Regions from separate parts of the Homo sapiens genome. Here regions 2 and 3 are each linked to region 1. Evidence: fine-mapped expression QTL. A gene starts in region 1. Each other region holds a variant in brackets. All regions are shown on one strand. Distances are from middle to middle.

The links.
Region 2: its variant is fine-mapped to the expression of MEX3B in whole blood (INTERVAL, PIP 0.94).
Region 3: its variant is fine-mapped to the expression of MEX3B in tibial artery (GTEx, PIP above 0.99).

The regions. Positions count from the first base shown.
Region 1 is chr15:82,041,936-82,052,377 of GRCh38, reverse strand. It overlaps MEX3B (mex-3 RNA binding family member B), which reads left to right and starts at 6,360. Exons shown (of 2, transcript NM_032246.6): 1 at 6,360-6,928; 2 at 7,765-10,442. The coding sequence starts at 6,673. The coding sequence ends at 9,218. RefSeq lists silencers at 5,111-5,430, 6,281-6,580 and an enhancer at 5,111-6,057.
Region 2 is chr15:81,590,280-81,600,721 of GRCh38, reverse strand. No RefSeq gene overlaps it. Among named protein-coding and RNA genes, the nearest start is that of TMC3, 220 kb to the right of the region's middle. The variant C/G (reference allele first, on the strand shown) is at 4,357.
Region 3 is chr15:82,107,349-82,117,790 of GRCh38, reverse strand. No RefSeq gene overlaps it. Among named protein-coding and RNA genes, the nearest start is that of LINC01583, 24 kb to the right of the region's middle. RefSeq lists a silencer at 9,037-9,116. The variant A/G (reference allele first, on the strand shown) is at 5,427.

The DNA.
Region 1 (10,442 bases):
CGGGAGGCTGAGGCAGGAGAATGGCGTGAACCCGGGAGGCGGAGCTTGCAGTGAGACGAGATCGCGCCACTGCACTCCAGCCTGGGCGACAGAGGGAGACTGTCTCAAAAAAAAAAAAAAAAAAAAGGATATTCGCCCAGTGGAACAACTTTGGCTGCTGGTCCCTCCTCTGTCTCCCCCAAGCAGGGTTATATAGTTCGTTGAGACATTCCCTTCACCAAAAGGCATTCCTCAGCTCAGGGAAAGGAAAGTGGAGAGGAATGGTGAGTGAGACCGTCTTTAAATATCCTGAACTACTGCCCCCTTCCTTATTGTCTACTATCTACATTTGGGGAGTGATTCTCTTAGCAACCTCTCAGGTTTGATATCAGCAATACTGACTCATGATACTACCCCAAAGCCAAAGCATGAAACATGGAAGGTGTTCACTAGGGACAATACCAGATTTCCTTAAATCACAAAGCAACAGAGCACATCACACTGGATGTCTCACTCTGGCTTCCTGCCCGGCTCCATATCAACGGGCAATTGACGTTGGGGGGAGCCATTTCCTACTCTGGCCTTCAGCTTGCGGTCAGCTGAGTGTGTTGGACCACACACTCTCTAGCATCCTGCGATTCTAACCTTCTATGGATTTCATCAGTTTTATAGATATGAGTTCAGCCTACGACTTTGGGAAACAAAGGATTCAACTGTAAAAAACATTTGAATTCCACTGATCTATTTTATCTCTGCTCAGGAAGAAAAAATGGCACCTTCTTCCTGAAGTTTGTGTTTCCGGTCTCCTTGATTTCTGAGAGATTTTAAAATTACTTTCTATTTTTCTTACTCTGTTCTGATATTGCAAAATGGTTATTACCAATTATTAACTAAGTGATGTTTAATTTTAGAAGTCAAGCTACTTGTAAGGGCCCATATAAATGTGTGCTAGGATTAGCTTTAGATTTGTTTTCTGCTTCTATTTACAGCAAGGACAGGACTGGGGAGTGGTTTTATTTTATTAAGCTTTTTAGCATGATTTAATTTTTAAAACTCAGGACGTATTACTTTAAAAATTAATCGAATAAAGATGTATGTTCATAACTTGAACCACACAGAAAAGTAAAATACAAATAAAATTGTGATCTCATTACTTAAAGAATAACCATTGTTGGCCATGTGCGGTGGCTCACGCCTGTAATCTCAGCACTTTGGGAGGCCAAGGCGGGCGCATCACTTGAGGTCAGGAGTTCAAGACCAGCCTGGCCAACGTGGTGCAACCTCATCTCTACTAAAATACAAAAAAAATTAGCTGGGCATGGTGGCGTGTGCCTGCAATCCCAGCTACTTGGGAGGCTGAGCCAGGAGAATTGCTTAAACCCGGGAGGCCGAGGTTGCAGTGAGCAGAGATTGCGCCACTGCACTCCAGCCTGGGCGACAGAGCAAGACTCCATCACAAGGAAAAGAAAACAAGCATTGTTAAAATTTTGATGCAATTCCTTGTAGCCTACTCATTCACTGTTTCTAATGCTTACTAAGTGTTTAGTAACACATACATACACACTGCACACACACACATTGTCTCCTTCTTCACTCAACATAAGGATAGCATTTCCTATATTATTAAAATATTTTTAAAAATGTGTGTGTGTTACATGTGTTATATGTCACACACACTTTTAACCACACAAAGACACAGGAGAACATCAAAAATCAAGATGCTTTCACGTCCCCTCACACATGTGATCCTTATAATCCTGTGTGAGAAGCAGGACTGGAAATATTTCCAACTTCCAGCTGAAAATGCATAGCTCAGAGACAGGAAGGAACTTAACGTTGGTTAAGATCACAGGCTCGGGGTACCACATACCAGCTGTGTGACCCTGGGCACAATAATGGATCTAAGATTTGTGGGGCGCGAAGCCTGTATCATTTTAGGGGTTCTCCTTAAAGAAAATAATAAAACATTTACCTGTGAAAATTTTAGTGATTTCATGTGATCTTGTAAGTATATTGCTAGGACCTCTTCCAGGGCCTTGGAAGGGTCTGTGTTAAGTGAGGAGCCCTGTAGCTTCATTTCATCTGCTTGGAGGCAAATCTGCCTTTATTTGGGTAAGTGACTTATTTTCATCTGTAAAGTGGGGATAATAAAAGTGCTTGCCTCTGAGTAGTTAGAAAGATTAAACAAGATACTGTATTGTAAAGCATTTTGTAAACTTCCTGGCACATTGGCACATAATAAGTGCTTAATAAGGGTCACCTGTGATTACTAATTTTATTCAAAATCATGTCATTGTGGCTGGTGTCATTTGAGCTGCTTCCCAGAGACTGAGCGATTCCTGTACATACCTAAAGTTACACCTTCAAGATGCTGCAGCTTGGCTCACTCACTCATTTAATAAGCATTTAGGAGTTCCTGCTAGATGCTATGCACTGTGCTAGGCTCCAGTCTCAATTCATTCTCACACCACATTCACTGGAAGCACAACTCAGGTATCCCCTCCTCTGGGAAGCCCTTCTAGGACCCTAAGCCGACTCACTACTATCTGGGCACTTATCTCTCTGTGTGACTGGGTTTGGACATCACTAGTATTCAAGGAAAAGACATTATCCTGCCCCTCTGCCACCTTTGTTCATTTCAGTTCAGTATAATCGATACTTCTCTCTGTGCCTATAATACAGTATGGAGGTGCTCAATAATCTTAAATGAGTTGACTGAGCATGTGTTTGTTTTCACAGGAAGATTTCCGTTTCTTTTGCAAGCTATTTAATTTGCAAAAGTAAGCAAGATGTGCACAAAATAGTTTTGAGACATCTGGAAACAAAACAAGGTTGCCTCATCATTAATCTTGTTTTTGTGTGATAACTTTACTTTTTCTCATTTTATGACAACTGAAATTCTCTATTATACTGCCAGACCTCATTCTGCAAGCTTCTCTCCTGTGCTAATAAAAAATATTATGGCCACATCGAGAAGTCCTTAGGGAATGTGTTCTGCATCAGGAAAAGTAATTAAGCTCTGGGGTCCTAAAGGAGCCTGGGAAAGTCTATCCAGAAACTATGGGGTTAGGATGTATTATCTATTGAAAAACAGAACCGGACTTTGCAAGTTTTACAATATCTTGGCTTATTAAAGCCACTAACTGAGAATTAAAATTTCTGGATTGTTACTTTTACAACAGCAGTCAAGTGTCGGAAAATATCCTGACCAGTCAGTAAGGTATACAAATAGAGAAGGCAAGGAGTAGCTGTGAGTAAAGCGCCAACTACATTTGCTGAGTACCTGGGAATTTACGAGTTAGCTTTTGCTATCATTATCCGTCTCGCTAAAGCAACCCTATGAGGTAGGTGGGAAGCTGGATGCCGTCCTCTTTTGACAGCCAACACTGAAGAACAGCTGGGGCTGGAAACTAGATCTGTCAGACATAGTAACTGCTTCTATCACTCTCACCACCCTCCCATGCTCTTGAGAGTGCCTTCGCTTTTGTGGGTGTCTTCAGAAAAGCATGCGGATCTCTGTATAGGTTTTACTCAAGTGTTCCTCTCTGTGGAGGGTGACCTGGGCTACATGAACATGGGCACCTCAGGATCGGCAGCTTTCCATGAATTCCTATGGTAAGGGGTTCAGCTTATCCTTCATGTGGGTGAAGATGTATGATTTCATTGAACATTGGCAGTTACAGCCAAGTACAAGTCCTGCCTTCAGGATCCAGCAGGGAAGAATGACATTAAACATGTCACCTTGGAGAAATGTTGCATTCACCTTCCGGGTAATGACCCAGCCACCCAGGGACTCCTCTGAAATATCCAATCCTCTAAGTTTAAACACGTTTCAGAATTAATCCATCTGAATTCTTATCGCTGTAGATGCAAGGAGAAGGAGTTATGGCAGGTCTGAAACTATTAGCGGCCAAGCTCCCTAGCAGAAGCAACCTCTCCCTACACCCCATTATCCGTGCACAGCTCCTTATCAGCGGAGGAACAACTTTACTGTCACCATATTTTCTACTTGGAAAAAAAAAAGAAACCTCAGCAGGCCCAATCCGAAGGCTATGAAATTTCAAAGAAACAGAGCTAAGAGGCGAGAAACTAGCCCTTTGTGTTAAAAAGATGGAAATGCTCCAAGCGCCTTTCCAGTCTGCTTTCTGTTTACAGGCCTTGCGTGAGCGCGGGAGGCTGGGCCTCATCTCTGGCTCTCCCCAGCCAGGACCCCTTACTCAAAACCCTCCATCTCGGCAAGAACCCTCATTCCCAAGTTAGTTGGATTCCAAGTCCATAAACCGGGTCAAAAGAATACAGTAATTTCCTACTGGAGCTCTAAGTGGTGGTTTTCACGGAGGACTCGGCACCATCCTCCCACCTGCCTCCTCCCATCGAACATTCCTTTTTAAGAAAAACACACACCAGGCTCCGGGAAGCTGACGTAAACATCCTGAGGAAATAACCACTGTAAGTGGCTTCTAAACCCATTTCCCCAAGGAAATAATCAGCACCTCTTTCCCAAGACAGCTCCAGGTAAGCAAGCGGTGAAGGGAGCTGCACCACCGCGTTCTCAAAAGTAAAGGCGCTTGCGGAACTGTCTACTGATTTGTAAGCGCGCGCCCATCCACTGTCGCATTTAATCTTCCGAACGACCCACGAGGTGGTAAAGGCGGGGATTATTTTCTTCATTTTACGGGTGAGAAACCGAGGCCCACAGCGCTCGTTCCTGTAGCCGGGGTCAGGCAGGGCACACCTAGGGGAGCCTCTGCCTTCGAGCCCCGGGACCGCCCCGCGGCACCACGAGATCTCCCCAGTCAGCCCGTGTGCGGCTGCGGCCGCATGGCCTCATTGTTTTGGGAAGACGTCCCTCTGTGAGGATCTTGGGCGACTCTATGAACCGCGGGCCCAGCCGCTCTGCGGAACGATCCGCAGCGGGACGCAAAGGGCGCGGCGAGCCCGGCGGCTCCCGGAACAAAGGACAGCAGAGCGCGCGGGGCCCGAAGGGGCGTCCGCCCTAGTGGGCGGCGGAGGGGGATGCGCGCGGAGAGGACCAGCGCGCACCGCCCCGGCCCGCCCCTCAAATCCTCCTTCCTTCTCTCTCGCACTCGGAGACGGTCCCTGGGAGATCCGGGAGGGGGCGCAGCTCGCCGTCCTCGCCGGCAAGTGCCGTCGCAACCTCCCTCTGCCGCCACCCCCACCCCGAGAAGCGCACAAAGAGCGGCCGGGCAGGGAGCGCTCACCTCCCGTCGGGGCGGGGCCGCGGGCGGGGCCGGCGCGCGCTCCGCAGCGCCCGCCTTAAAGGGCCCGCCCGCTCCTCGCGCGCACTGCGCATGCTCGGCCGCGGGGCACGGAGGGGAGGGATGGGAACAGCGGGCGCGCACGCCCGCGCCGCCCGCTGGCGCTGTGGCCTGCGTCCCCGCGGTGGCGGCGCGGCGCTCGTGCGCGTGTCAGAACCCGCAGGGTCTCGGCCCGGGCGCCGGGCGTGTGCTGGACACTGGTGCCATGCATTCCAGAGGTCGCCAGCGGCCGGGCGGGCCGAGCTCGCGCGGCAGCCAGCTTTTAGCTTTCCCATCCTCAGTTTCAGGGCCAGTTGGGCGAAGTGCTGCCCAAGGAGACAGAAATGCAGGCGCGGGCGCGCGCGCGCGCGGTTGCCAGTGTGGGCGGGCGTGTGCTTTTGTGTCTCGTGCGCTCCCGCGCAGGTGGACAACCCGCGCCGGGAGTCACTCTGCCCGTGCGCCCCAAGACCTGGAGTCCCGTTTTCCGTGTCGGAGGGCTCGGGTCGCCCTTTTGGGCGGACTACAGACTCTTCTCACAGAGGAAGCTTTGGCTCCACGGATGGTTTATTTGGAGCCACTAACGGGACTTCCTGAGGACCGCTCTTTTAGAGCCCGGCTCCAGGCATCAGAGTTGGGCGCGTTTTCTTTTCTCAGTCAGGCGAGGGAGGAGACTTAGGGACAATGATTGTCCTCGGCTGATAGGTACATCCAAGTGTCCCGAGCCTGCCAGTCCCGCATTAGACAACAAAGAGAGGCGTTAGCGGCGGCGGGGGAGGGGCGCGGCCGGGAGGAGGACGGGGCGGGCTGCGGCGAGCGCGGGGGTGGGGGGTGGCGCTCTCTCTCCGCTCGCTCAACCCGCGGCCTCCTCCCGCCCCCGGCCTGGCGCGCGCCAATCGCCTCCCCCAGCGATAGTGTCAGTAGCATTGTGGTGTCAGCTCCCGCCTGTGACGTTGCGCCTCCCTCGTCCCCCTCCGGAGTCGTCTGGCTGCAGAGGCTCAGTCAAGAGGCGGGGAGGAGAGGAGGAAAAAGCGCTGAGTGAGGGCGGGCGGGCGGGCGGGAGGGAGGGAGTGGAGGAGCCGGGGAGGGGCTCCTTAAAGAAACGCTTCTGTCGCTCGCCTGCTCGCTTTTCGCTCGGCATTGCGGCCAGCCAGCCGGGCACTCGGGGGGCACGCGCGGCCACCGCTAGAGCTCTGCCCCCACCCCACCCGCCAGCAGGTCTGGGGTGGGGACCCAGGTGGGGGCTCCTGCAGCCACTGCCCGGTGCGGACCGCACGGAGCGACCCACTCCTCCCAGCACCGAGGAAGAAGCAACGGAGCCCTCAGCAGGCGACCGGCCTCCCCGCCCCTGACCACCCGCTTCCCGGCTGCCTTTGTGGCCGCAGCTTCTCGCCGCCGAGCCGAGGGCCGGCGGGGGCGCGGCGCGCACGGCCGAGCGATGCCCAGCTCGCTGTTCGCAGACCTGGAGCGCAACGGCAGCGGCGGCGGCGGCGGCGGCAGCAGCGGAGGGGGAGAGACCCTGGATGACCAAAGAGCCCTGCAGCTCGCGCTCGACCAGCTCTCCCTGCTGGGGCTGGACAGTGACGAGGGCGCCTCTCTGTACGACAGCGAGCCGCGCAAGAAGAGCGTGAACATGACCGAGTGCGTGCCAGTACCCAGTTCTGAGCATGTCGCCGAGATCGTGGGGCGGCAAGGTAGGTCGAGGAGGGATGGGGAGGTGGGTGGGGGTGGTGTAGGGTCTCAGGCCACTGCCTCGAGGGGAAGGCGTGTTCAGTATCGGGATCCGCGGCGTGGGGTGCCTTGGGGAGAGAGGAAGAGCCGCGCGATGGGCCGGCGCCCCAGACAAAGAAAGTGCAGGCAGGCTGTCTCCCGGAGCCGCGCCGCTGCCCTGGCGGGATGCACTTTCTTCTGCTAAAATCACTGCCTTCTCCCCTAACGCCCCCCAACCAGCCCACCTCCAGAAAGACAATTTAAATGTAAGATGCTTGGGGGAGGGGGCCTTTGATCAGTCCTTTGGGAGGAGGAAGGAGGAGGAGTGAGCATAGGATGGGAGGAGGATTCTGGATTTCTGCAAAGCGGAATGGAGCCCAGAGGAGGAACAATGGGTCCCGGGACTCACACCCCACCCCCTACCCCCAGTCGACCAGCGCTGAGGCATCGCGACTTCAGCTGCCTTCCCCGAGCCCCTTCCCCGTGTCTTCAGAGCTGACGGCGCGCCCAGCTGGATCCCAGCGGCATCTCCCCAGATGACTTTTCTGGGATTCTCGGGTTTGGTTCGGGACGACTGCAGTCACTGGGGGAGGGCCAGGCAGCCAATGGGCTGTTCCTCGAGCGCCTCGCGGGTGGGATCCGCTGCCCAGCCCGTGGCGCGGCCCGAGGTCAGTGAGGGAGACGCCCCCTTTCCGCCCATCTCTTGTCCTGCCGTCTCGCTGTCCTGGACGCGGGCTGTCCCCGGTCCCCGCGGTTACCCCAGGATAATGGGCGTGTCTGTCTCTCTCTCCCACTCCCTCCTCCGCACCCTGGTTCGTAGGTTGTAAAATCAAAGCGCTGCGGGCGAAGACCAATACTTACATCAAGACCCCAGTTCGCGGGGAGGAGCCTGTCTTTGTTGTGACGGGCAGGAAGGAGGATGTGGCCATGGCTCGGAGGGAGATCATCTCTGCTGCCGAGCACTTCTCCATGATCCGCGCCTCCCGGAATAAGAACACGGCACTCAACGGCGCGGTGCCTGGGCCGCCCAACCTGCCCGGGCAGACCACCATCCAAGTGCGGGTACCCTACCGCGTGGTGGGGCTCGTGGTGGGGCCCAAAGGCGCCACAATCAAGCGCATCCAGCAGCAGACGCACACGTACATCGTGACGCCCAGCCGGGATAAGGAGCCGGTGTTCGAGGTGACCGGCATGCCAGAGAACGTGGATCGCGCTCGAGAGGAGATTGAGGCGCACATTGCTCTGCGTACCGGCGGCATCATTGAGCTCACAGACGAGAACGACTTCCACGCCAACGGCACCGATGTGGGCTTCGATCTGCATCATGGGTCCGGCGGGTCCGGCCCAGGCAGCCTCTGGAGCAAGCCCACCCCCAGCATCACGCCCACCCCCGGCCGCAAGCCTTTCTCTAGCTACCGCAACGACAGCTCCAGCTCGCTTGGCAGTGCTTCCACAGACTCTTATTTCGGCGGCGGGACCAGCAGCAGCGCAGCGGCTACCCAGCGCCTGGCGGACTACAGCCCCCCTAGCCCCGCCCTGAGCTTTGCGCACAACGGAAACAATAACAATAACGGCAATGGGTACACCTACACAGCGGGGGGAGAAGCCTCAGTGCCATCCCCCGACGGCTGCCCCGAGCTGCAGCCCACTTTTGACCCGGCTCCCGCTCCCCCACCTGGGGCACCACTTATCTGGGCCCAGTTCGAGCGGTCCCCGGGAGGCGGACCTGCAGCTCCGGTATCTTCTTCCTGCTCTTCTTCTGCATCTTCGTCTGCTTCTTCCTCCTCCGTGGTCTTCCCCGGGGGTGGCGCCAGTGCGCCCTCCAACGCCAACCTGGGGCTATTGGTGCACCGCCGGCTGCACCCTGGCACCAGCTGCCCGCGCCTGTCTCCACCCTTGCACATGGCCCCGGGGGCGGGAGAGCACCACCTGGCTCGCCGGGTGCGCAGCGACCCGGGTGGAGGAGGCCTGGCCTACGCCGCTTATGCCAACGGGCTGGGGGCACAGCTGCCTGGCTTGCAGCCGTCGGACACGTCGGGCTCCTCCTCTTCGTCCAGCTCCTCCTCCAGCTCTTCATCCTCTTCCTCCGGGCTTCGGCGTAAAGGCAGCCGCGACTGCTCCGTGTGCTTCGAGAGCGAAGTGATTGCCGCGCTGGTGCCCTGTGGCCACAACCTCTTCTGCATGGAGTGCGCCAATCGCATCTGTGAGAAGAGCGAGCCCGAGTGCCCGGTCTGCCACACCGCGGTCACTCAGGCCATCCGCATCTTTTCTTAAAGGCAGCGGGCGCTGCTAGTGCGCACCGTGCTGGGGGAAGGGGGAACCCCTCCCCACCCTCTTTCCCCAGCGCTCGCCTGCCTCCCTGGGTGCCCCCCCTCTCCCTTCTCCTTCCCGGCCCCACCAACACTCTGAGATCCGAGAGGAGCTTGGAAAGCTGTAGTATCCGCTCATTTTTAAAATTTAATTTTTAAGTAAAGGAATTTGCCAGGATATCTGCATCAAGAGTACTGTAGCCTGGGAAACCTGAACACCTGAAATGCATGCTCTATAAATAATAGGAACGGCGACATTCTAGTAATGATAGTTTTTACACTGTACTTAATAGGAAGCTTCCAAAAGAAGAAAACCCCACAAGTTTTCCATTTTCTTAAAGTAGGAAAAAATGAACAGTAATAATTATGATGAAGATGATAGTAGTGCTATGGGATGTGTGGACTGTTTAGTGTGTTCCCCTTTGTGGGTGGGTTCCTATGATACTTATTATAGAACACAGTGGATCCTTTTTGAATGTTCGTGGAAGGGCCAGGAGTTCCTGTGAAACCAGGATACTGCAGCTTTATTAAAGTTAAAGAAACTGTAACATATCTCTTATATATTAAAAACGTTTAAAAGTTTTAAAGAGAAATTGCATTAATACAGATTGAAGTATTTTATTCTTTTTTGACTTGAAAAATTATATTTCATATTGCAAAGATGTTTACAAGTATTTTAATTTAAGTTCAGTGAACTTTTTTGTAGCTGGGTTAAATCTTTTTATTTTAGTATGGCCTTATGGCAAAGAACACTGTATTATTTTAATAATCACACAATTGTGACGGAATTACAACCATAAAATGTGTAATGTTTTGAACAGTATTCTGTTGGGATGGAGATTTTATAGGTTCAGACAAATCTTCTAGATCTGCTTCACCCAGCATATTTTCTATTCAGTGATATAAAGCATATTTTATTCTATATTATTACAAAAACGGAAATGTATAAACATGTCAAAAAGAACTGTTGATGCTTTCTAACATTTGTATAAATAGAATTCAGTGCAAGTTACAAAAATTCTGTTGCACCACTCTAGTTTTAGTATTTCTATTTTAATACATTTGTTTACCACTTGTTTATGTATATGTAGGTGATGTTACTTGAGCTTAAATGTACTTTACTGAGCAAAGTTTAAAAAACAAAGTATATTTTATTTTATGATAAAGGGCCTTTAACCTCATGGTCAAA
Region 2 (10,442 bases), 450 kb after region 1:
TCCATTCCCTGCAGAAAATTTTAAGCTTGGCTTTAATCTCCTTTATCATGGTAAACATGGTTATGTTACAGGATGTGTCTGATAAGTCTAATATCTGGAGTACATGTAGACCTGTTCTATTCTTATGTTTCTCTATAGGTCTCATTTATATTTTATGGTCTTCTTGGATTTCCTGGTTATCTTAAATTTGATACTGGATATTGCATGTATAAAACTACATTTAGAAATAATTTGAGGTCTAGAGTGATGTGATCCTCATTTGGAGAGAACTTGTGTTTGCTTTTGCCAGGTGCTTTGGGGGCATTTGAAGAGTGGGATATTTGCCACAATGATAGATGAGAACAATTGGATCTCATAGCAACTGCTGAATTTTACATTTTTAAAAACTAGGGGAATATCTGATTAAATATTTTGTATCCACTAAAAATTTTGGACAATGCAGACAAGAAGGGAAAAGATAAATAACCAACGGCCCTACCATTCATTAACAGCCGTTAAATATTTAAATATTTAGTTAAATATTATATTTGATTGATAAAAAAACTGAAATAAGAACTGGCTTACAGTTATACTACTGGTTAGTGGTATAAGCAAAGGTAGAATCTTCTAGTACACTATTGTCTTCACTACGTAAAACTAATTTATGCCCCTAAATTAGGTTAGTGAGGAATGTACCAATGTGTCTATAGTGTTTTATTTATTTAAATTCATAAGATTATCTATTTTTCTGTTTGAAATATATATGTATGTTTATGTGTGTACCCACAATATTTTGAACTTTTTTTTCTTATGCATTTTAATACCATTTTATTTTCCCCACTAGTCAAGGAGCCGAGACAACTTACTAGATGAACTAGTCTCAGGGTAGAAGAACAGAGCCCAGGCCCTAGAATAAAGACAACAGGCATGAATGGAGTAGCTGAATGAATTTGTTAGACTCGTTTAAATAATAGATTTTTAAAGCCAACATTTTCAATTGAAGAATATAAGTCTTTAGTTTTGTTTGATTATTTGTTTTTGAGAGAGAAAGAGAGTCTTTTGAGACTAAACAGACCAAGAACTCTAAAGAAGGAAGGCATAAATTTTCTATTAAAAAAAAACCCTCAATAGTTTAGAAGAGAATGCATGCTGTTAAAAGATTTAATTTCTACCCAAAAGGAAATAAAAATTCAACATTCTGGCAGGAGAAGGACATGCTGCCTCACAGAAGAGTTTGGCAAAAAATTCCAAAGGGTTGTAAGGAGAACCTGAGAGCAAAGGTGATTTACGTTTTGCTTCTTGGAGTGGCTTCTGTGAACCTTTCTTAGAGGCCCGCCATCCTTTGTAAAACCAGAGGAACAGAGTAGCAATGACTAGATGAGGTGCTCAGAGCAGTGGGGCACTTGCAGAGTCCTAAACACTCAGGACTGAATCACAGCACCCATGGAGGTAGGGCTTAAGGCAAGGAGACATTGTGTATGCAGGTGGCTCTCAGAGCCCATAGAAGAATGGTGCACATCAAAAATGAATGTTACAGATAAATAGTTCAAGGGAACAGGAAGGAGATCAGCAATTAGACCCATAGAAACATAATTTATCTTTGACAGAGGAACAAAGGCATCACAATGCAGAAAAGAGAGTGTTTCCAACAAATGATGCTGGAACTACTGGACACCCACACGCAAAAACACGAACCCAGACTGACCTTACACCCCTCATAAAAATTAACTCAAAATGGATCATAGACCTGAATGTAAAACACAAAACTATAAAGCTTCTAGAAAATAACATAAGAGAAAATCTAGGTAACTCTAGGTCTGGTGATGACATTTTAGATAGGACACCAAAGGCACAATCCATAAAAGAAATAATTAATAAGCTGGACTTCATTAAAATTTTTAAAACTTCTACTCTGTAAAAGACAATGCCAAGGGGATGAGAAGATAAGCCACAGACTGGGATAGAATATTTGCAGAATACATTATCTGATAAAGGATATTATCTGAAATATACAAAGTATGCTTAAAACTCAGCAATAAGAAGATAAATAACCCAATTAAAAATGGGCAAAAGCCTTGAACAGACAACTCACCAAAGAAGATATGTAGAAGTAAATAAACTATGAAAACATGCTCAACATCATATGTCATTAGAAAATTGCAAATTGAAACAAAAATGAGATACCATTACACAGCTGTTAGAGTGGCCAACATACAGAGCACTGATAACACCACAAGTTGAGGCAGTAGAGCAATGGGAACTCTCATTTACTGCTGATGGGAAAGCAAAATGGTACAGTCCCTTTGGAAGACAGTTTGGTGGTTTCTTACAAAACTAAACATACTCCTGCCATATGATCTAGCAATCATGCCCCTTGGTATTTACCCAAAGGAGCTGAAAACTTATGTTCACACAAAAATCTGCACACAGATGTTGATAGCAGCTTTATTCACAACTGCCAAAACTTGGAAGTCAAAAACATGCGCTTCAGTAGGTGAATGAATAAATAAACTGTGGTACATCCACACGATGAAATATTATTCAGTGCTAAAAAGAAATGAGCTATCCATCCATGCAAAGAAACAGAGGAAACTTAAATGCCCATCACTAAGTGAAAAAAGCCAATCTGAGAAAGCCACATATTGTATGATTCCAAGTCTATGACATTCTGGAAAAGGCAACATTATAGATACCATAAAGAAGACCACTGGTTTCTGCGAGTTTGTGGGCAGGAGGAATAAATAAGTGGAGCAGAAGGGAATTTTATGACAATGAGGCTACTCTGTATGATACTAGGTGGTTGCACGTCATTGCAATTTGTCAAAACCCATAGAATGTGTAATACCAAGAGTGAGCCCTAATATAACCTGTGGATGTTGGGTGATGAGGATGTGTCAATGTAGGTTCATCAATTATAACAATGTACCATTGTGGTGCCAGATGTTGATAGCTGGGGAGGTTGTGCGTGTGTGTGGGGAAGTGATGATATAAGAGTTCCCAGAACTTTCTGCCTAATTTTGCTGTGAACCTAAAACCACTCCAAAAAATAAAATCTATTAAAAAACAAAACAAAACCAAAAAAACAATGTGTCTGGGCAAGCCTGTAATCCCAGCACTTTGGGAGGCCGAGGTGGGTGAATCACATGAGGTCAGGAGTTCGGGACCAGCCTGGCCAACATGGTGAAACCCCATCTATAGTGAAAATACAAAAATTAGCTGGGCATGGTCGTGGGTGCCTGTAATCCCAGCTATGCAGGGATTCCAAGTCCCTGAGGCAGGAGAATCACTTGAACCCCGGAGGCGGAGGTTGCAGTGGGCTGAGACCATGCCATTGCACACCAGCCTTGGCGACAAGAGTGAAACTGCATCTCAAAACAAAACAAAATGAAAAAACCAAAACAACGTATGTCAAAACAATTTGCCAGAGACTATTTCCAATGAGTAACACTTCATGGAGTCCAATCTGAAAGGAGAAGGATTGTAGACTGGACACCCCATTTACTTCGGTGTCAAGATTCCTTTTTCTTCCTCACCCTCAACCCCAGAATTTAGGCCTTCCTCAGGGAGAAAGGAAGATGAGAGAGGAGCTGAATTTTGAGAATGTTTCAAATGACTGAATGGTTACCCAAGAGACTAAATCTCAGACCTTGAGTTAGCTAACTTTTCTGGTATCAGCAATACTGAGGACATGAGAGCTGAAATAATTGAATAGAGTTCAATTACAGAGAGAAATAAAGAATATTGTACATCTGGGTTTTGTCACTCTGCACATTCAAACATACCACACGTGTTTTCAAGTTACATGTAAAAGTTTGATCTTAGAAAAAGAATTCTCAGGAACATGCACAGAGCTTATCCCAGCAAACAGCATTTATGAAGTTGCATCTGACAGGTGAGACACACCTCCCTTCTGGCATCTTCCCCACCTGTAAGGGTGAATTCACTCCTTTTTCATTGAACATGCCATTCTAATGCACAAAGTGCACAGTAAGCCTCACAAGGAGGGCTACTTAAATTTGCATACCAAACAATCCTGACATCTAGAGATGTCTTGTGGTCAGTCAGCACAGAGACAGAAAAATCTGGGCCAGTGACCCAGATATTGAGAGACTCACTCCTCTGAGGGATAAGGCTGCACGTGGCAGACTGGAAAGCAGTGAATTGAAACCTATTTCCTTCTACATTTCTCTGGAGACAAGATGGTAATATACCAGGGCCATGGTCTTCCTGTCTTGATATCTGTGCTCATCCCAAATGCACAAAAAAAAAAAAAAAAAAAAAAGACAGCTTCAGGAGACAGATCTTTGGACAACAAAAAGATCTTTAGATTAGATCTATCTACGCCGGAACAGGCAGGTGGGCTTCAGTCTTTGAAAA[C/G]CAGAAGCTACTATGCATGAGTTGTTGTTCTCATAACTGAAAATCTAAAAATATAAGGAAATTCATTTTAATACTGACAGATTGGAAAACGGAAGGAAGAATTTAGAAAACTCAGAAATAGTGTCAAAGAACAAGGCAAGAAAGGCTCAGTAACATGCTCATAATTAGATGAAAAACGACGTGCAAGCTCCAGGGATTTTCTCCCCTGGAATCTTCTCTCTCCATGGAAAACCCACACAAATTGGCTGTGTACCCCTGAGAGCAAGGCCAGGATCAGGGAGCTATAATTGTTGTTTAGAGACAGTGCTAAATGCAAGACCAGGTTTCACTCTTGGCCAAAGAAGTGACCTTTTTCTAGAATTTTACTGTATGGTACATGCCCTCTAAGTACAGGAAATGTTAGCAATGGGCAAATAAATCTCATGCTCCGGCATGACTGGAATAATGGCTGAAATTGAAGGGAGTGACAGGCTGTAGGCTGTTATTCAAATGAGGGCAATATAGCCAAGTGGTGTAACATGGCTTGCTAGACAAACATAATCATCAGGAAAAGCTGCAAATCTATAGTTGAGAGATGGCTACAAGTAAAGAGAGAGTAAAAGGGAGAGAAAGGCTGGGTGTGGTGGCTCACACTTGTAATCCTAACACTGTGGGAGGCCAAGGGGAGCAGATGGCTTGAGCTCAGGAGTTCGAGATCAGCTTGGGCAACACGGTGAAACCCCATCTCTATAAAAAATACAAAAATTAGCTGGGTGTGGTGGCACATGCCTGTGGTCAGAGCTACTCGGGAGACTGAGGTGGGAGGATTGCTTGAATCCAGCAGGTCAAGGAAGCAGTGAGCCATGATCACTCCACTGCACTCCAGCCTGGGTGACAGAGTGAGACCCTGTCTCAAAAATAAAATAAAAATTAAAAGAAAGAGAGAGAGAGATACAGTGCATACTTAGACCTCAAGCAGTTAATTAGACAGGAAATACTGGTGAAACTTTCCTCAAGAAATGAAAATAGAGTAAGAATGGACAGGAAAGTAAGATGTAGTAATGATATCAAGCCATGGAGGGAACAGTAGTAAATCTAACACTATTTTTACACAAAGATTAGATAAGTTGTCTGAAGGGAAAGGAAAGAAAAAAAGAAGATATTTGGGCAGATATTTGATACAAAGCTCAGGGTGATAGGTTAAAAAAAAAGTTGGTTTCAATTGGAAGTGAATTGAACAGAAAATGAAGCACAGAGTTGGTGAACAAGCAGAGGTCCAGTTCGCAGACTTGAATGATGACTGATTCCAAAGAAAATTTCTTTTTTTTGAGACGGAGTCCACTCTTGTCGCCCAGGCTGGAGTGCAATGGCATGATCTCAGCTCACTGCAACCTCTGCCTCCTGGGTTCAAGTGAACCCTGGCTGCTTCAGCCTCCTGAGTAGCTGGGATTACAGGCGCCTGGCACCATGCCCAGCTAATTTTTGTATTTTTAGTAGAGATGGGGTTTCACCATGTTGGCCAGGCTGGTCTTGAACTCCTGACCTCAGGTGACTCTCCCGCCTCAGCCTCCCAAAGTGCTGGGATTACAGGCGTGAGCCACCGTGCCTGGCCCCAAAGAAAATTTTTAATCACAATACTTGTAATCAAAGACAAGCCAAAAGATACTACAGAAGCAGGATGCACAATAAGAAATGCCTTATGAAGGAGAGTGGGGAGCGACTGGCAGAGATGGCAAGCTATGAGCCTTGAGAACATCTCCTGACAAACAGTTGCTGGCAAGAAGACTCAGGGATTTTTATTTCATACTGGTAAGGATTTGATAGCCCTCAGACACAGTTCTTTCTGGGAGAGCTCTGTAGTAGATGAGCCATATATCTAACCAAGAGAGATATGAATATCATTTTCCACTGCAAATCTGTCTCCATTCAGAGATAATATGGCATTCTCTTAGAGCACGGCCTGAACTGGGCCATGATTATTACTAACACTTATAAAGACATTGAACATCAGAAATTTTTTTAAATATCAGTGCTTTTGTCATCTTTGGGGTTGTACACATCACAAGTGGAAATAGCATCCTCCCTTAGTTGTATGAGTTGTGTTATGGCACAGGTGGAGCTTCTGAACCATGAGCATCTACCCTCACCATGGGTTTGACCAACCAAGGGATATTAGTTTCTCCCTTTTCTCATGGAGGTGGCAAAGATAAAACATAAAAGCTGTGCTTGGGCATAATAAAAACTTACAGGGCTTTACTTTCGTGGAAAATGTGACCCATTACAAATGCTGACCATGATACACTGCCCCAGGGACCTTCGCTCTTCTCCATTTGGGTGAGATGCTGCTGATTCTGTTTTGACCCTGATAGGTGTTAAGTACCAGGCTCTGAAATACAATTATCACCTCCAGGTCAGCATACCCTGTAGGTATTTCAGTGAAGGATGATGAGGACCCAAGCTCTTCGTTAAACTCCAGCCGACCTTCACACAATTGAGGACACAAGCCTCTTGGTTGGTGCTCATATTATATTATGGAGAGAACTATCATTTCCTAACAAAAGTCAAGCAAAACCCTGAAGAGACTTTTCACCTCTTCCACCTATCTCAGCGAAGAACACACTGTGCTGATTATTTTCTATTTGGCCTCCTACCCCTACCCACATGAGATGAGAGCTCTTCTCTCCCTTCCTCTGCCATTCTCTGCCTTGCTCTGGGACTTAAGAGACTCCCCCTAATGGCCTGTATCATCTAGGTACCCGTATTCACCAGCTTCTCATGGGATCGACTAATGGGAGGCACCATCAAGAGACAACGCAGAGCTAGAGCAGAGAGAAACGCAGAGCTAGAGCAGAGAGAAACGCAGAGGTAGAGCAGAGAGAAACGCAGAGCTAGAGCAGAGAGAAACGCAGAGCTAGAGCAGAGAGAAACGCAGAGCTAGAGCAGAGAGAAACGCAGAGCTAGAGCAGAGAGAAACGCAGAGCTAGAGCAGAGAGGAGTCGCAGTTATTTCTTCCCCACTTGCTCCCAACTTAGGCACAGAGATACTGAGAGCAGTTGTGTCTTTCAGGGACTACAGCTTTTGCCTGAGTTCCTTCTCCTCAGCTCCAGCTCTCAGTGGACTTTGATACCATGACCCAAACCCCAAGGTAACCTTGTGCTCCTTTAGGCCTCAGACAACAACAGCTTCCTGCTCTTGTTACTTTCTGGGTACCCCAACATTCGCTGTTGGTTCTCTCCCCACATTCTGTCTTTAATAAACTTCAGCTGTCTGGTCCTGTTGCAACCCTGACTCGTACAAGCCTCTATCCCTGCTATCTCAGACTGTTTGGGCTGCCATAGCAAAAATACCATATACCGAGTGGCTTAAACAGCAAACATTTATTTCTCACAGTTCTAGAGACTGGCAAGTCCAAGATCAAGGCACTGGTAGATTTTGGGTTTGGTGAGGGCCCTTTTCCTGGTTGATAGATGGCTGTCTTCTTGCTGCATCCCCACATGGTGGAAGGTGAGAAGGAGCTCTCTGGGGCCTCTTTTATATGGCACTAATCACATGCATGAGGGCTTCACCCTCATGATATTAATCACCTCTCAAAGGCCCCACCTCCTAATACGATCACATTGAGAATAACGATTTCAACCTGTGAGTTTGGCTGGGTTGGGGAACACGCAAATTCAGACCATAATACCTGTCAATAGGGAAAATAAGTGAGAATACCCTGCTCTCTTAAAATGGAGTTTTTATTCTTGCAAATGAGTTTTGTTTGGAATCTATGTTACTCCTTGTACTCAGAAGTGAATACTTTGCCACTTTCTCTAACTAGACAGTTTTATGAGAGAATGGAAAGATAAGGCGAGAGGAGAACTTCAGAAGATTTCTTTTCGAGTCTTATATAATTATCAGGCTTGGGATTTCTCTAAAAGCAGATAGCCAGCTGTGTGAATGCCTATCCTTTGTTCTTTTTATCCCTGGGATCACTAAGACCCTTATCAAAAGAACATATTCAAATAAATCCATCAAATCTCTTTGATTTGGCACTTATTTTTAAAGAGAAATAAGAAAGTTTGGAACATCCTTCGCCAATTTAGGTATGGAAGTTTTATTGATTTCAACCTAATACTTAGAGCCTGTAAATATTTTTCAAGTGACTGCTTAATAATAATTTTATAGGGCATAACAGAAATTATAAACTTATGATTGAATCATCAGTTTGTATCATAATTGCAGAAATATTTTATTATAAATTTTAGAAACTTTATACCCTCATCCCCACTACTCCCAATTTTTTCCTAGACTTTCTTCTACTCACTGTTGGCATGCACATTTGTTTTTGGCAGGCTATGGGCTATCTTTGTAAATATGCACATTTCTAGTCTGCTTTTCCTCATAAAATCTTATTTCATAGGCAGTTTTCAGTAACATTTATTTTTTATTTTTAGTAGCTACATAATATTCTACCAGGTATTATTATTTGCCCATCTAATGCCACTCATGAGTATTTAGGTTATTTCCAATAATCAGGCTGTGATGGTTAATTTTATATGTCAACGTGGCTGGGCCACAGTGCCAATATTTGGTCAAACATTATTCTGTATGTTTCTGCAATTACGTTTTCAGATGAAATTTATATTTAAATTGGGGGAATCTGAGTAAAGCAGGTTGTCCTCCATAATATGGCTTGGCCTCATCCAATCAGTCAAAGGCTCAACTAGAATGAAAGACTGACCTTCCCTGAGCAAGAGGGGATTCTGCCTGCAGATGGGCTTTGAGTCTCAACTGTAACATCAGCTCTTCCTTGGTCTCCACCCTCCAAACCCATCCTTCAGACTTTGGACTTGCCAGCCTCCATCATCACATGAAGCAACTCCTTATAATAAATCTCTTTCTATGTATACGTATCCTGTTGTTTCTGTTTCTCTGGAAAATCCTAATGCACAGGTAATCCCTAGAAGTAAACTTTTTTTTTTTTTTTTGAGGCAGAGTCTTGCTCTGTTGCCCAGGCTGGAGTACAGTAGTTCTTGACTCACTGCAAGCTCCACCTCCTGGGTTCAGGCCATTCTCCTGCCTCAGCTTCCGAAGTGGCTGTGACTACAGGCACCTGCCACCATGCCTGGCTAATTTTTTTTTTTTTTTTGGTATTTTTAGTAGAGAGGGGGTTTCACCGTGTTAGCCAGGATGGTATCAATCTCCTGACTTTGTGATCTGCCCACCTCGGCCTCCCAAAGTGCTGCGATTACAGGCGTGAGCCACTGTGCCCAGCCCCCTAGAAGTAAACTCTTTAGAAATCCAGTAGAATCATATTTGCTGCACTTGAGAATTTGAGAACTGTTTCTCTCTTTCTTGATTAGAAACATCATGGGATTAGGTCCACAGTTGGCTCCTTCCAGTGGGTTTGTGGTTGCTGACTTCAAGAATGGAGCCAGGGACCTTCATGGTGAGTGTTACAGCTCTTAAAGGTGGCACAGACCCAAAGAGTGAACAACAGCAAGATTTATTGTGAAGAGCAAAAGAAGAAAGCTTCCGCAGCATGCAAAGGGATCTGACTGGGTTGCCCCTGTTGGCTGCGGGGTGGCCAGCTTTTATTCCCTTATTTGACCCCGCCCATGTTCTGCTGATTGGTCCATTTTACAGAGTGTTGATTGGTCTATTTTACAGAGTGCTAATTGGTCCATTTTACAGAGTGCTGATTGGTCCATTTTACAAACCTCTAGCTAGCCACAGAGCACTGATTGGTGTGTTTTTACAGAGCACTGATTGGTGCATTTTACAAACCTCTTCTAAGACAGAAAAGTTCTTCAAGACCCCACCGGACTCAGAAGTCCAGCTGGCTTCACCTCTCAGGATGACGCTTAAAGTGATTATTCTTTTGTACATAGAGAAATGACTTTTTGAGGCTTATGGAATCCATCAAAATTTTGTTTAGAAGTTTCATATTATAACATAATATTGTGTCATAATCCAGTATTTTCTCTTAATATTGTTTTCTACTTTAATTTTTCTGTAAGTAAATTATTAAAATGTAATTAAAATTTTAAAGAAGAAATTAAAAAATTGCTAATATAGGATTAACTGCAATGAAGATGGAAGAAATGGTTGGTTCTATTCATAGG
Region 3 (10,442 bases), 65 kb before region 1:
CGGGAGGCCTGGCTGCACAGACAAGATCCTGTCCTCCTCGTTTCCCTGTGTCAGCTTAAGCCATCTCGACCCCCTTCCATATGGAAAGCTGAGTGATGTCTGCTCTTTCCTGAAATAGGCACACATGGAGGCTACCTAGTTCCGGGCCATTCTGACTGATTTAGCCAAAGTGCTTTCTCCAGAAGAAACCTAACATGGATGTTCCAGTGTAAAAGTTGTCAAAGTGGAATTGCCCTGTTTCACGACCCTCAAACCTGGGCCCAAAAGTAGTCGACTGCTCCTGGTGGCGTCCATGGAACCCCCAGGGGGTCTGTGGAGCACATCTGAAAATCAACAGCTGTAGATCCCTATTGGGTGACACCCTCAGCGTCTCCCTGGAATGCACCGTCTCCTTTGCTGGTTTCTGAGAATCACATACATGCACACCATATCCAGTTCCACTGTCACCAGCTGTAGGATTCAAGCAGCCAGTTTAGTTGGCTGCTGACTCCTCACCAAGCTCTCTGCATCTGCAAGAATGAGGGTAATTAAGGTGACTTGCATACATGTGCCCCAGATCCCAAGGTCTTCTCTAGAAAGAGAACTTAGGCAGACACTTTGATGCAATAATAAAGTCCTAGGCCAGGGGTTCTCCAAAGATGCTGGAGTCTCCTGATCAGCAGCCTCAGCATAACCTGACAGTTGGTCCGAAAGGCATAGTCTCAGCCCCACCTCAGACCTAACAAGTCAGAAATGGGACAGGCCGGCCATCTCTCTTGCTGATTCTCATGAGCTCACCTGGGATTTGCCTTTCAGATCTGTCTCCTGGCCCAACCTTCCATGAACTCGTTGCAGGCTGCAAGCACACACTGGAAAGCTGTCTTATGAAATCTCTGAGCCCCTGGGAGATGAGACAGTGAAGTTTCCTTCCTCTAATACAAAGGGCAGCCCAAGAGAGAGTAGAGGCCACCTCTTCCATGCCTGCCCAGAGCACAGCTTGGTCTCAACACACCGTGTGCTCTAGAGAACACAGCTCCATTTTTATACCTTGAGGGACTCACCTCTAAGATACTGTGAGAGAACTGAGCAAAAATCATGGCCCCCTTTCCAAGAACTAAAGGTCATGCAATAGCAGATGGGTAGGAGGCAAAGGGATGGGATTCCTTCTGTTTCCCCATGACAGTGTGGCCTGGCAAAGTTCAACTTACACAAATGGTACACTTTCCAAATCTTACCACTTTTGGGAAAATATGTATACACACACACACACACACACACACACACACACACACACTCTTATTAAATGTAGAGACCCAGCCAGGCACGGTGGCTCACACCTGTAATCCCAACACTTTGGGAGGCGGAGGCAGGCAGATCACTTGAGGTCAGGAGTTCGAGACCAGCCTGGCCAACATGGTAAAACCCCATCTTGGAAATAGAAAATTAGCCGGGCGTAGTGGTGGGTGCCTGTAATCCCAGCTACTCGGGAGGCTGAGGCAGGAGAATCGCTTGAACCCAGGAGGCAGAGGTTGCAGTGAGCTGAGATTGCACCATTGCACTTGGGCCTGGGCAACAAGAGTTAAACTCCATCTCAAAAAAATCTAAAAAATAAAAATAAAACGTAGTGACCCTTGGTTACCTTCCCTCTGGATTTTAATATTACTCATGTACAAGAAATATAGATCTTAGAGAGCCGATACCCTCACACAGTTTTGGCGGGGATAGAGATGAAAAGAGCACGCTGATGTTACCTAATATTATAGAGTCTTTCTGAGATATGTGCCTGTCTCACACAAAGTGTATTTACTCTGCCACATTACGATTCAGCTCTTTTATGATAAGACTAGTAACACTGATAATAAATATTGTTTTTGAGCTCCTACCCTGTGCCCTTATACCATTCTAGGCACTTTATTTTTTACATGGCTTGCCTCTGTTAAATGTCACCGTAACTCCCAGATAACCTCTTCTGATAGCTGGGAAAACCAAAGCACAGATTGGTTTATAAACTTGCTCACACAGCTAGCATCAGAGAGACCTGGGATGTCTCATCATTTCTGTTCTCGTATCAAAGAGGGCCCTTGTGAGCCTCTCAGTTGCCCGATCCTAACACTGGTCAATTGGAATCTACTCCCCAATGTTCCAAGGAATGGATGTCATGAACCATGGCAGGTGGCATGGATGCTGGAATCCAGAGTGGTCCAGGTGAGGCCTCAGCCATATGCAGCTTGGCCTCAGACTTTGCCTCCCCATAGGTTATGATGTTGGGGCTGCCATCTTTCACCAAATAGGAAAATGTTTGATCAAATCTTTCTATAATTACAAATTATTGTTCTCACCTGGAAAACACACAGACACAGAGGGGCAAGCATTATTGATTATTTGACTATTGGTTTTTCTCTCCTTATCTTTATCTATAAAGTTGAACTTTTAAAATTGGGGTAGAAAGTAATTATTCCTCCTTTAATTCACTCTGTTTTTAATTTGGTTCTCTAAGATTTTGGCTGCACCCATGGTCGAGGCAGCCAGGTGAAGGGGTTGAAGACACCAGAAAACGCATTACTTGCTGTAACACAAGAAGTCTGTAATTCTCTCGGGTCATCTTAGGAGAGTCTTCCCCATGGGTTGCGTGTCCACACAGAAGGCTGGCTCCAAAAGACCTGGCTGCTCTAGCTCTTGGCAAATGAGAGAACTCACACAATAATAGCAGCTGCCATGCATTGAGCCCTTAGGCGTTAGGCACTCTACCAAGCATTTAACAATACTCCAAAATAATTAATAATTTACTATATGCCAATCATTCTAATGCCTCTTGACAATTGTCTGACGTGGGTGCTCACCTTACATTTGAGGAAACTAGATACAGAGAGGTTAAATAAGTTGCACTTGGCAGGTGGAGCTGAGGGTGAGGCCAGAGATGACAGGGTGGTCATAGAAGCCAGGGTGTGGGGCGGGAGGTGGCAAGTGAGTCTAGGCTGCTTGTTGAGGCCCAGGTAGCGAGGAAGGCATAAGGCCATGAGGGGCCGGAGAAGCCAGAGAACCAAGAAGGCGGGATGTTCTCAGTGAGGTGGAAAGCAGGTTTGGTGGCAGGAGGGACTGGGAGAGGCAAGAAGAAGGCACAAAAGGAGGGCTAATCTTTGGAGAATGTTGACCTCCTCTGGGAGATCCTGCACTTTCACCTCAGTGAGAATAATAATCAACTGCTCCCCATTTCTGATACCCAGGGTATTACCCACCAGCATCATGCTGGAAGGGATAGGGAATATGGTCTAAGCCCCAACAGGGCTTCCTCCAAGGCCATTCTTGTACCCACAGAAGATGGGAAGAGTGTATAAAATGGTCCATTTTGAGTCATCCAGTCTAACCCCTGATATGGAGTCCATGGGGGAGGCTTGGAGTGTTGTGGCCCCTCCCCCTATTCCAGGGGCTTCTCCTCCTCAGGTGCTCACACTTACCAAGCCTGGGTTCTCAGCCCTTGATTCTCAAGGCCACCAGCACCATCTCCCTTCTCCTCCAGCGGGTTGATCAGAAGAACCGCTTCTCTTGACTTCTGTGTCTTTTCCCTGGTCCCCTCAGACCCACGTCCTTTTATTCTCACTCCTTCCTCCTCCTGAGTAGGCTCTCCGTCCTTGGCTGCATCTGGAACCCCTAATGCAGCCTGCTGTGGATCCTGCAATGGTTGGGGAGAGGAGGAAAGTGGCCTTGGGGTGGCATTTGCAGACATAACCAGGTTCACAATCCTGCGGGTACTTCCTGTGCCCCTTAAGGAAGGGGCTGCCTCACTATCCCAGATAGATGAAGAGGGAAGGAGGAGGGAGAGAAACCCATTCTGACACGTAAGAACTGCTCTGTGTGCCGGGCACTGTGCTAAGGGGTTTACATGCATGACTTGAATTTCCTGCCCGGTGATTGGTAAAGTTCAGATTCAGACCCAGGCCCTTTGGCTTTCTAATGCAGGGCTCTCACCCCACTGCAGCCCCTCTGGGGAAATGAGAAGGAGGTGACAGAGCAGTAAGTGTGGTGGGAGGGCCCGCAGGTGCAACTCATGGCTATTCTAGCTGTGGCCAGAGAAGCTGTCCAGTGTGGGGTCAAGCCCAGGGGTGGACAGAGTTAGAGGCCTAGGCTAGATGTCAGCTGGGGGTGGTAGGATATAAGAAAGAAGGGAGGAGGAGAGAGTAGAGGGAATGGGGATGCCATGGGTGGTTTGCTTGGAAATGATTCATGGATCAGCACTTCCAGGAGGAAAATGCCCCATCAATCCTATCTCAGTGACAGTATTGTTTCCTTCAGATCATAAGCCAGGGCTCTGGTACAGCTTCCCCTATGTGAATAGAGGGAAGCAGAGGGCTAAAGACAGACCTGGCCTGGCAGCTGCTCTGCATTTCCCTTCCTCAGAACAAGACACTGAGAATGCCTGGCTTGAGGTTCTCCCCACACTGCTCCACTCAGCTGGTGTGAGTGGTCCTGGAACTTTCCTGGCTTTACAAATGGGTCCTTTGTTTAAGACTCAGAACAGGAGCACTCAGCTGGTGATGATTTTGTCCCCCAGGGACATTTGGCAATGTCTGGAAATACACTGGCATCCAGTGGGTACAGTCTGAGGAGCTACTAAACATCCTGCAATGCACAGGACAGGCCCCCTGTGACGAGGAAGTATCTGGATCTAAATGGGGTGGGAGGAGGGGGCAGAGAGGCTTTCCCATCCTGTTTGATTCCCACAGGCTTCCTGGTGCTCTGTCCTGAAGGGCATGGAGGTGCTGGGGGGCTGTGCCTAATGGTAACCACGGCCCAAGGCAGAAGTGGAATCGTGGCCTTGTGAATGGCCGCCTCTGTGCTCACCTGGTGAGTGGGGCTCCTGCAGGTATTTAATATGTTTCCAGTCTGCCTTCAGCTTTTCTGGAGCACAGGGAGCGACTGGGAAGAGTCCTATGCCCATCAGTCTGTCCAAACCCCATCATCACAGGGAGAGGGTTAGGGTACTTAAGGTGGAATTTCCTGACAGTGGAGGCAAGCAAACCAAAGAGGGGCTGAGTGGAGAAGCTGTGCTCCCTCGGCTGCCCAAGGGGAAAAGGCATAACTTGGAAACCCGAGAGAATCAACTAAAGGACAATTCAGCAGATACATACTTCGGGACTGTAAACCAAGCTCCTGTTTGTCCCAAGACAATGTGAAAACCACAACATTTCCATCAAGTTAAAAAACAAAAAACTTTCCTGGCACAGCTAGTCATGAACAGCTCCAACCCCGACACCAGAACATTATGGTGGCACCTGCCTGTGTCTGCAGCCCTCTCTGCCTGGCCCCAGGCCTCCAGCAAGAAGGCCGGGCAGGGCTGAGCCTGCAGAGCTGCCTGAAGACTAAAAGCTGGATGGAGAAGGGACTTTATCCCTCAAGTGGATGGCTTTCCAAGGGTTGGACTCACACTGTTGCCTCTTGGGCCCTGCTTG[A/G]GGGCAGCGCCATCTAGAATAGTGGTGAGGTCTCCCGGACGGAAATGTAGAAGGAGAAAATACTTTCTTTGTGGCTCATCTCTCTGCTCCTCTGCAGTGTGGCTGCATGTCGCCTGCTCTGTGTGGCTGCCTTGGGCGCCTGGAGGGTCTGCAGAGCCGTGCGTCACTGCATATCTAGGCTTTGTGGCCGTTCATTCCTGGACCTGCTCACCGCACCGCACAAGGCAGTTTTGAAAAAGGACTGAGGCTGCTGAAATGTAAATGGGAGACGTCTGGTTCTCTCTGTGTTCTACATTGGGAAACATATGGTCTGAATTAAGACATTTGAGATGGTTTTTAAAATGCGCTGCTCTGGGTGAGAATGTTGATTGGATCCTGCATCCAGGAAACCAACTGGAGAAGACATTTTAGACACCACTGGGGAAATGTGAATAGGGCCTGAGTATTAGATGATACTATGGTTTGAATGTTTTTGTCTCCCCTAAAATTGATGTTGAAACATAATCCCCAATGCAACAGTAGTAAGAGATGTGGCCTTTAGGAGATGGTTGAGTCATGAATGGGAGTAGGTGCCCCTATAAAGGAGTCTGATGGAGAGAGTTTATCCCTTTTGCCCTTCAGCCTTCTGCTGTGTTAGGATGCAGCGTTCCACCACTCCAGAGGACTTGGAAGCAGACAGCAGCCCTCACCAGACACAAACCTGCTGGCACCTTGATCTTGGACTTCCCAGCCTCCAGAGCTATGAGAAAATAAATGTTTGTTCTTCATAAATTACCTAGTCTCAGGTATTTTGTTATAGCAGCACAAACAAGCCAAGATAGATAATATTAAGAAAATTGACTGGGCGCGGTGGCTCACGCCTGTAACCCCAGCACTTTGGGAGGCTGAGGCAGGCGGGTCACCTGAGGTCAGAAGTTCCAGACCAGCCTGGAACAACGGTTTAGTAGAAACCCCGTCTCTACTAAAAATAAAAAAAATTAGCTGGACGTGGTGGCACGTGCCTGTAGTCCTGGCTTCTCAGGAGGCTGAGACAGGAGAATTGCTTGAACCCAGGAGGCAGAGGTTGCAGTGAGACGAGATCGCACCACTGCACTTCAGCCTGGGTGACAGAGTGAGACTCTGTCACAAAAAAAAAAGAAAAAAAAGAAAAAAAAAGAAAATTGCAGTTAATTTTGTTAGGAGTGATAACAGTATTTTAGTGGAGTAGGGAAGTATGCTTATTTTTTAGAGGTACAAATTGAAGTATTTGGGGGTAAATTGTCATGATAATGATAATTTACTTTATTTATTTATTTATTTATTTTGAGTTGGAGTCCTGCTCTGTTGCCCAGGCTGGAGTGCGGTGGCGTGATCTTGGCTCACTGCAGCCTCTGCCTCCCAGGTGCAAGCAATTCTCCTGTCTCAGCCTCCCAAGTAGCTGGGATTACAGGCGTGCACCACCAAGCCCGGCTAATTTTTTTGTAATTTTGTAGAGATGGGACTTCACCATGTTGGCCAAGCTGGTCTCGAACTTCTGACCTCAAGTAATCTACCCACCTCAGCCTCAAAAGTGCTGGGATTACAGGCGGAAGCCACCTCACCAAGCCGATAATTTATTTTAAAATACATCCTCTCCAAAGGATATTATACGGTTCTCCTTACTTTTCCTGTATGCTGAAAATGTTCATAATGAAAAGTAAAAACAAAACTCAAAGACCCTGGAAATCCTGTTTCTTTATCTGAAAAAGTAAATGCTGCCCTAACTTTGAGGTAAAGGCAGAACAAGCATGACATGGGGAAAGACCAGCTCTCTTCTGTGAGGGCTGGAGCCTGCACCATTACTGTTCCGGCCTCCCCAACCTTCGGTGCTAGACGCATATCTGAAAATGAATGGAGAATTCGTTGCCCTGCAAAGAAACTGTCACAGATCATTCATCCATTCATTTATTCCGCTACTTATTTATCCAGTCATTCAACAAATACTGATTGAGGATCTACAGCTTGCCAGTGTCTGTGCTGGGGGCTGGGCACACAATGATAAGAGAAAACAGGCACAGCCCCTGCCCCTGTGGAGCTTAAAATCTTATCAAGGAAGCAGGTGTTAAAGAACTGCAAAGATAAATGCAGAAGTTACAACCAAAGAAAATGAGTAGCATTATAAAAGAGAGTATGAGAGAGAGGAAAATGACCAAGCCAAGAAGATCTAGGAAGCTGAGTGTGACAGGAGGAGAGAAGGGAGGTGCGGAGGCCTGTGGCCAAAGGCAGCAAGGCAGCACTGAGGGCTGGAGTCTGGTGTGGCTGCAGTGAAGGGGGAACGGGAGTGGCTGGAACTGGAGAAGGTGCAGGAGGTAGAGGCAGAGACGCCTGGTCCATGGGCTACTTCTGGCTTTTCTCTCCCGGAGTATGGAGATGAACCTGAAATTTGTCTTCTTCCCTTGCCGACTTGCCCCATCCCAGCTCCTCACTGCTCTGCTCGGCCTTCTGAGCTTCAGATGCACCCTCCACCTGACCCTTACTAAGTTAAACACTCTGTGGCCTTCATCATGGGGTCACCTCGCCCCTTAGCATGGCAGGTCCCTTCCACTGGCTCTTCTGGCCCTTTCCATGCCAAGGGAAAGCTGTGGAGCTCTAACCCAGACCTCTCCACCCCACTGGGTCGGGTCTCCATTTGATTCTGGCTGCTCCGTGTAAACATGGCAGCTCCATACAAGGGGGTCTGTACCCAGAGTCCCAGCCCAGATGACATGCACAAGCCCCTCCACTGGTGGCGTCACCTCAAGACATCCTAGGCCGGGCGCGGTGGCTCACGCCTGTAATCGTAACCCTTTGGGAGGCCGAGGCGGGCGGATCACGAGGTCAGGAGATCGAGACCATCCTGGCTAACATGGTGAAACCCTGTCTCTATTAAAAAGACGAAAAAATTAGCCGGGCTTGGTGGCGGGCACCTGTAGACCCAGCTACTGGGGAGGCTGAGGCAGGAGAATGGCGTGAGCCCAGGAGGCGGAGCTTGCAATGATCGGAGATTGCACCACTGCACTCCAGCCTGGGCGACAGAGCGAGACTCCGTCTTTAAAAAAAAAAAAAAAGACATCCTCACCCCACCCCACCACATCCTGGGACTTTGGCTGAGGAAGCCACGATGCCTGTGTCTCAGCCATTGCTTCTCCTCCTCTGTCCCTCTCCCTTCCATGGTCCATCAAAGGGAAATAGCAGGATTTCTACTTCTCCTTCCCGTCTGGGAGAATCTCCTCTTACTCAATGCCCTTCCCTTCCCTTCCCTAGGCTGCAATCCCCTTGACTGCTAGGGTGTCTTCTCTACATTCTAGAAGAACTTTAGGGCTGGGGCCTACTCGGCTTGGCACTAGCCATCACCCTGGATAAAAATATACTGACTTAAGATCCCCCAAGATCGTATCCTTACTAGAGCAAAGCGTTCAATCAATAGCAGCTATTGTGATCATTCCCTTGTCTAAAGAAGGTTTCTCCTAGACTCTCTGGAATACTTCCTGTTTAACTCAAGACTCACCCTCATGTAAGACTTTGCCTCTGGGGTCCTCAGTTGAGTGACACCAGTCCACACCCCCAAACCTTCAGCCTCTAATGATAGAGCCCGGAGATCTCCCCCAGCCCATGTGCCACATCTGCCTCCTTTCTGCCGCTGAGGTTCACCTGCGCAGCCCCAGCCCCAGCCCCAGCTCTCTGCTCCCCTCTGGTGGAGCCCTGCCGTACTGCCCTGCCTGGCCCCTGGCTGACTTCATGAGCTGGAAGCAGCTGCCAGCAACAGCCACTTGGCCCTATCAGAAAAATGTGAGGGAAGTTAAAGACCCAAAAAGGTGGGCCTTATCACGTAAAATGAAGACCTACAGAGGTGCTTTCGCCCTAATTTGTTGACAGGATAAAAATAAGGACGGGGTGGGAGAGGAAACTCATACTTATGAAGTCCCTGTAATGTGTTAGGCCCTTGCTATACACTTCATGTATGTTGTTTCATGATAGAACTGTGAGGCAGGGCCAGGTGCGGTGGCTCACACCTGTAATCCCAGCACTTTGGGAGGCCAAGGCGGGTGGATCACCTGAGGTCAGGAGTTTGAGACCAGCCTGGCCAACATGGTGAAACCCCGTCTCTCCTAAAAATACAAAAATTAGCCGGGCATGGTGGCACATGCCTGTAGTCCCAGCTACTCGGGAGGCTGAGGGAGGAGAATCACTTAAACCCGGGAGATGGATGTTGTAGTTAGCTGAGATCGTACCATGCACTCCAGCCTGGGCGACATAGCGAGACTCCACCTCAAAAAAAAAAAAAAAAAAAAAAGAACTGTGAGGCAGGTACTCATGTTTGCAGAGGAGGGAGATGAGAGTTTAAGTGACCTGCCTGAGACCAAATAGAGTGAAAGTGGCAGAGGTGGGATTGAAACACAGGACTGTAGTCTGCTGAATAAAGGGGTGACACAGGCCTGGCATGGTAGCTCACGCCTGTAATTCCAGCACTTTGGGAGGCTGAGGCGGGCAGATCATTTGAGGTCAGGAGTTCGAGACCAGCCTGGCCAACATGGTGAAACCCCTTCTCTACTAAAAAATACAAAAATTAGCTGGGTGTGATGGTGCGTGCCTATGGTCTCAGCTGCTGGGGAGGCTGAGGCACGAGAATTGCTTGAACCTGGGAGGGGGAAGTTGCAGTGAACTGAGATCGCGCCACTGCACTCCAGCCTGGGTGACCGAGCAAGACTCCATCTCAAAAAAGCAAGAAAGCAAGAAGGAAAGGAAGGAAGGAAGGAACGAAGGAAGGAAGGGAGGAAGGGAGGGAGGGAGGGAGGGAGGGAGGAAAGGAAGGAAAGGAAGGAAGGAAGGAAGGAAGGAAGGAAGGAAGGAAGGAAAGAAAGAGAAAGAAAGAAAAAGAAAGAAAGAAAGAAAAGAAAGAAAGAAGAAAAAAGAAAGAAAAGAAAGAAAGAAAGAAAAGAAAGAAAAGAAAGAAAAGAAAGAAAGAAAGAAAGAAAGAAAGAAAGAAAGAAAGAAAGAAAGAAAGAAAGAAAGAAAAGA